2 separate regions of the Homo sapiens genome follow, and region 1 is linked to region 2. Evidence: fine-mapped expression QTL. A gene starts in region 2. The other region holds a variant in brackets. All regions are shown on one strand. Distances are from middle to middle.

Region 1 (2,912 bases), 93 kb before region 2:
AGTGATGATAACATAATCAAGACTCTTCCTTAGGGCTTGAGGGTTCCAGCAAACATCTCTGCCATCTGTCTGCCTGCTTTTTCTGTCACTTCTGAAATTCTGGTATCATGCCCGTGGTCAAAGCAACTAACTTCTGTGGCTACTAGAACTTTCTTCCTGCTTTTCTCACTCTGCACTTCCTGCTGCTGTCAATGAAACTCAGCTTCTTATTCCCAGGCACTCTCAGAGTGAGGATCCATAGGAGGCTTTGATTCTCAGGACAGATAACCCCATCTTTCCTCTGGTTCTGACCTATTTTTCTGTGTCCTTGTTACTGTGGTCATACCCAGAGAAGTAACATTTTGTCTTGAATTTGTAAAAATCTCTACCTTTCCCCACAAAGGGATTTCAGCACAGTGGCTATTTTAACAGATACCATGCAGCACGTACCACACGTTCCCTTCCTGAGTCCTTGAAAGTAATTTTCAGCTTTTGATCGGCTATATTGTTCTTCCCAGCTACATTTTGGGAAGTCCAGCAGAATAACTTGCTACTCTTTTAAAGGTCCTAATGATAAAACGAAACAAAACATCCCCTTTTTATCATCACCCACAAAGCCCTAATGCGTGCAACAAAGATTGTGAAACGTCCAGGGAACAGTTTGTGAGACAGAAAGGATGGCTTTGTTGATTAGCAAAAAGCTGGAACGTGGACACTGGCAACACAACAGGATTGGGACCCGCCTTCTTCAAGTGAAACAAAGTTGGAATTATTTTCAATTTTAATGTTAAACGGTTTTTTTGTTTGTTTCCAAATTATTTGAAAAGTTACTAATCCAAGCGTGGTATGAGTGGTATCATTTTGGTAACTAGATTAATGCACTACCAGATCCTAGAATTTCCCACTTTACCAAATAAAAGTATGTTCTGTGGAATTCTCCTAGACCAAGACAGGCTTTTCCCCTGAGCAATAGTGATAAAGTTGTCTAAATACATGAACTGGTGGCATTTTTCAAAAAGTAATAATGTTATAATCAAGAGGTGGTGTTGCTATGTTGCCCAGGCTGGTCTTGAACTCCCAGTCTCAAGTGATCTGCCAGGAGGCTGAGATGGGAGGATCATCTGAGTCTGGGAGGCCAAGGCTACAGAGAGCTGAGATTGCATTGCTGCACTCAAGCCTGGGTGACAGAGTGAAACCTTGTCTCAAAAACAAAACAAAACAAAACAAAACAAAACACTGCCACCATGCCTGCCTAATATTTTTATTTTTATTTTTGTAGAGATTGAAGGGGGTCTCACTATGCTGTCCAGGCTGATCTCAAACTCCTGAACTCAAGTGATTCTCCTGCCTTAGCCTCCTAAAATGCTGGGATTACAGGCGTCTTTAAGTGCTGGGGGTCGGCATATTTAAAATGAACAC[A/G]CTGCCTATAATCCCAGCACTTTGGGAGGCCAAGGCAGGTGGATCTCCTGAGGTCAGGAGTTCGAGACCAACCTGGCCAACATGGCGAAACCCTCTCTCTACTAAAAATACAAAAATTAGCCGGGCATGGTGGTGGGTGCCTATAGTCCCAGCTGTTTGGGAGGCTGAGGCAAGAGAATCGCTTGAGCCCAGGAGGCAGAGGTTGCATTGAGCCATATCGTGCCACTGCACTCCAACCTGGATGACAAAAGGGAGGCTCCGTCTGAAAAAACAAATAATTAATTAATAAAAATAAAATGAACACACTGTTTTAGTTTAACAGACTAAAGAGGTGCAACCGTATGGAATAAATGAGCCTGGACTTAGTCTTGTGTTTTAAAAAAGTTATAAAAGATGTATGGGAGCCGGGCGCAGTGGCTCATGCCTGTAATCCCAGCACTTTGGGAGACCGAGGGGGGCGGATCACAAGGTCAGGAGTTCAAGACCAGCCTGGTCAACATAGTGAAACCCTGTCTCTACTAAACATACAAAAATTTGCCAGGCATGGTGGCACATGTCTGTAGTCCCAGCTACTCGGGAGGCTGAGGCAGGAGAACCGCTTGAACCCGAGAGGTGAAGGTTGCAGTCAGCCGAGATCTCGCCACTGCACTCCAGCTTGGGCAACAAAGTGAGACTTCGTCTCAAAAAAAAAAAAAAAAAAAAAAAAAAGATGTATAGGACAACTGGGGAAAATTAAATATGGACTGGATATTAAGCAATATTAGGGAAGTATTTAGAATATTAGGGAATTATTTAGAATTATTTAGAATTGAAAGGTATTACTGTGTGCAGCTAACTTTCAAATGGTTTGGGGCTGGACGCGGTGTCTCACGCTTGTGATTCCAGCACTTTGGAAGGCCAAGGCAGGCAGATCACCTGAGGTCAGGACTCTGAGACCAGCCTGGCCATCATGGCATAACGCCATCCCTATTAAAAATACAAAAAATTAGCTGGGCATGGCGGCGGACGCCTGTAATCCCGGCTACTTGGGAGGCTAAGGCAGGAGAATCACTTGAACCTGGGAGGCAGAGGTTACAGTGAGCCGAAATCGCACTATTGCACTCCAGCCTGGGTGACAGAGCGAGACTCTATCTCAAAAAAAAAAAAAAACAAGAAAGAAAGAAAAATAAAAATAAAAAGGCCAAGTGCAATGGTTCACGCCTGTAATCCCAGCACTTTGGGAGGCTGAGTCAGGTGGATCACTGGAGGTCAGGAGTTCGAGACCAGCCTGACCAACATGGCGAATCTCCATCTCTACTAAAAACACAAAATTAGCCGGGTGTGGTGGCATGCACCCATAATCCCAGCTACTTGGGAGGCTAAGGCAGGAGAATCACTTGAACCTGGGAGGCAGAGGTTGCATGCAGTGAGCTGAGATTATGCCACTGCATTCCAGCCTGGGTGACAGAGCAAGACTCCATATTAAAAAAAAAAAAAAAAAAAGAAAGAAAAAGAAAAAGAAAAAAAGAAAAAAT
Region 2 (2,912 bases):
CCATTGCCTTTTACAGTAAAAGAGACAAAAATAATCTTATGATAAAAAATTGATTTTTAAAATAATTTTTTTTTCTGTTCCAGGATCCAATCGAGGATCACATGTTGCATTTAGTTATCATGACTCGTTAAATTGCATTAATTCCTTCAATTTGGAACAGTTCTTCAGCCTTTGTCTTTCATGATCCTGACATTTTTGAAGAGTGTAGGCCGTTTATTTTAACAGGATGTCCGTCAATCTGGGCTGCGTAAATGTTTTATATAATCTTTTTAAGTCTTACGTATTTCACAATTAAAAAACGAGATGCAACTCGGCGAGAAATAAAATGAACTCAGAAGCAGTAAATTTCAAGAAGGACTGTTTAGCAAGAAATCAGTAAAACAAGCCGATTTATCAAAATTCTATTTTTTAAAAAAACGACTTTTTCTTGATTCTAAAAACAAAACAGTACCAACACAGAAAACCAATTAAACATGGAAGGCCCCTCCGGTGCTAATCACCTGCACGTTCTCTCGACTCGGGAAGGCTTCCGCCAGAATCAAAAACCACGGCGCGTCATAAACTTTGCTTATTCGCAGGCGCCATTTTCTGCCTCATAGGCACCACCTCCCCTCCACTGTCGTCCCTCGGCCTCAGAGCACGCCCCTCAGCTCACGTCACCAACCTAACCTCGTTCCCAGGCTCCAGGCTCCTCCCCCCTCCCCCACGGAGGTCCCCGCTCCCTCCCTCGGACCGTTCGGCTCCATCCCGCTCTTCTGCTGACGTCACAAAGCTCGCCTCGTTCCCAGCCGCCCCGGAGCAATCGGAAACCGCTCCTCGCCCCCAAAAGTTGCATTACGCAGCGCAGGCCGCGCCCCCGCCTTATGTAGCAGAACCCACCTTCTTCCCAGGTTCCTACGCAGTTTCACTACGCAGGCCCGGCCCCACCTCCAGGACCGAAACTGGTCTCATCACAACAAACCCCATTTTGTTCTCAGGCGTCAGACTGCACCACACAGGCCCCGCCCCTTTTCCAGACGTTGCGATTCATTCAAAGGCACTTCCCCGCCCCTTTAGCCCGCTGTCCCGCCGGCCACTCCCCCGCCCCCGCACCCCGCAGCAGCTTTCCCGCGGCCCTCGGCCGCCGAATCCCCAGCGGTTGTCAATGCCCCCACCGTTCCCTCTGCCGAGGCTCCACCGCAGCCCAGCCTCACCAGCTTTCGCCGGCCCGCAGTGGACGTTCTCGCCCACTCTCGCCGTTTTCTATCTGGCGCCACTGGCTGTCCAGGCCTGGCAGCTCCTCGTGCTGTGGCTCTCTATCCTCAGTCACCGCCGCTGCCGCCGCCACAGCCGCCGCAGCAGCAGCTGGATTTGCTGCGACCGTCGCCATCGCCGTCCGTTCTCTTCTACAGCCAACGCAGCTGTGCGAGATTGGAAGACGCCCCTCAACAGCCACTTCCGGATTCTGGTCCCGGAAACGGAAGCAGAGCCCCCCAAACAGTCGCGGGGCTACTGCCATATTGGAAATGGCCCCGTGCACAGACGCGTCGAAGGGCTAGGTGGGGTAAAATCTTCAGTGGGAACCAAGAAAGACAAAAGTGCCTTGTGGGGTCCTAACGCCCTGTAGACTTAGGGCACAGGTGGCATGGAAAGTGGAGGCTGAGGTTCCCGAGGTGGGCTAGGACTCCTACCCTGGGAGCAGTGTTTTTGTTAGCCTGATCAGAATGCCCTTCATTGTACCATCAAAACCCAATGCAAAAGAGGTTTCCACCTCCAGAGACCCACCGAGGCCTGCGGGCTGTTGTTTCTCTTCCTGAACTAGATTTATTCACTAGACAAGGTGTTGAAGACAAGTTAGCCCCAGGCCCTATGTTTGTTGGAGTCATAGCAATCATAACTAAACTAGCTGTCCGCCCAGTTTAAGTGCTTTATTGGACTAAAATAGTAGCCTCAGGCAGCAGGTACTGTCCTTGTCACCCATGGGTAACAATGGGGACGCTGAGTACCAGAAACGTCCCTCAGCTAATTAGTGGTGGAGCTGCAGTTTAGACTTGAGAAATCTGGTTTCAGAGCTGTGACCTTAAACACCAGGCCAAACATTCTCCAACCGTGTGGTCCCAGTGGTCCCAGCCTGTCTACCGGTCCAAAAATCCTCTTGGGGTTTCACAAAATGAAAACTATTTTCACAATACTTTTTCACTCTCATTCTCTCAGGGGTGTACAGTGTGATTATCCAGAGGCTTCTGAATCCAGAGGCTATATGACATAAGCAAAAACTCTTTTGAATATCTTAAACTTTTAAGAACATAAAGGAATCCCGAGACCCAAAGTTTGAGAACCCTTGGACTAGGCCAGGGTCTCTCAACCTCAGCACTGTCATTTCTTTGTTGTGGGCATTGCAGGATATGTAGCAGCATCCCTGGCCTCTACCTACTAGATACCAAGTAGTACCCCTCAGGACAACCAAGTATCTCCAGACATTACCAAATGTCCTTTGGGGGAAAAATGTCTCTGGTTGAGAACCACTGCTCTAGGCTATGCTATTCTTTCCTCTGCTGGGGCTGCCAGCCCCGTTGATGATGACTTTAATTTCGAACCTCCCTTCCCCCTCACAATTTCATAATTTACCTATTTTCAGTTAATCTCTGCGGGGCAGGGATTGTGTCTTTATTACTGTGATTCCAGCCCCCAGCCCAGACCTGGCATAGATGAGGGGTCACAAACTCAGTTGTGTAAGCTCTGGGTGAGGAAAGGGAGCAGGCCTTTCACTTAAGGGTCCCCAAAGAAAGTGGCATTTGAGTTGAGTCAGACACATGGCAGATAGCTGCTCTTCAAGCCCAGTTGAATCTTGTCAGATTCTCTGAATTGATTCTCCCCATTGCCCCTCTGCAGACTCCCCCTCCCCATTTATCTGGGCAGCCAGGTAAATCCAA

What was found.
Region 1: its variant is fine-mapped to the expression of USP11 in tibial nerve (GTEx, PIP above 0.99).

What each region holds. Positions count from the first base shown.
Region 1 is chrX:47,324,844-47,327,755 of GRCh38, reverse strand. No RefSeq gene overlaps it. Among named protein-coding and RNA genes, the nearest start is that of ZNF157, 44 kb to the left of the region's middle. The variant A/G (reference allele first, on the strand shown) is at 1,399.
Region 2 is chrX:47,231,501-47,234,412 of GRCh38, reverse strand. USP11 (ubiquitin specific peptidase 11) reads right to left here and starts at 1,404. Exons shown (of 21, transcript NM_001371072.1): 1 at 1,194-1,404. The coding sequence starts at 1,369. RefSeq lists enhancers at 466-1,049, 1,475-1,524 and a cis regulatory region at 527-1,749.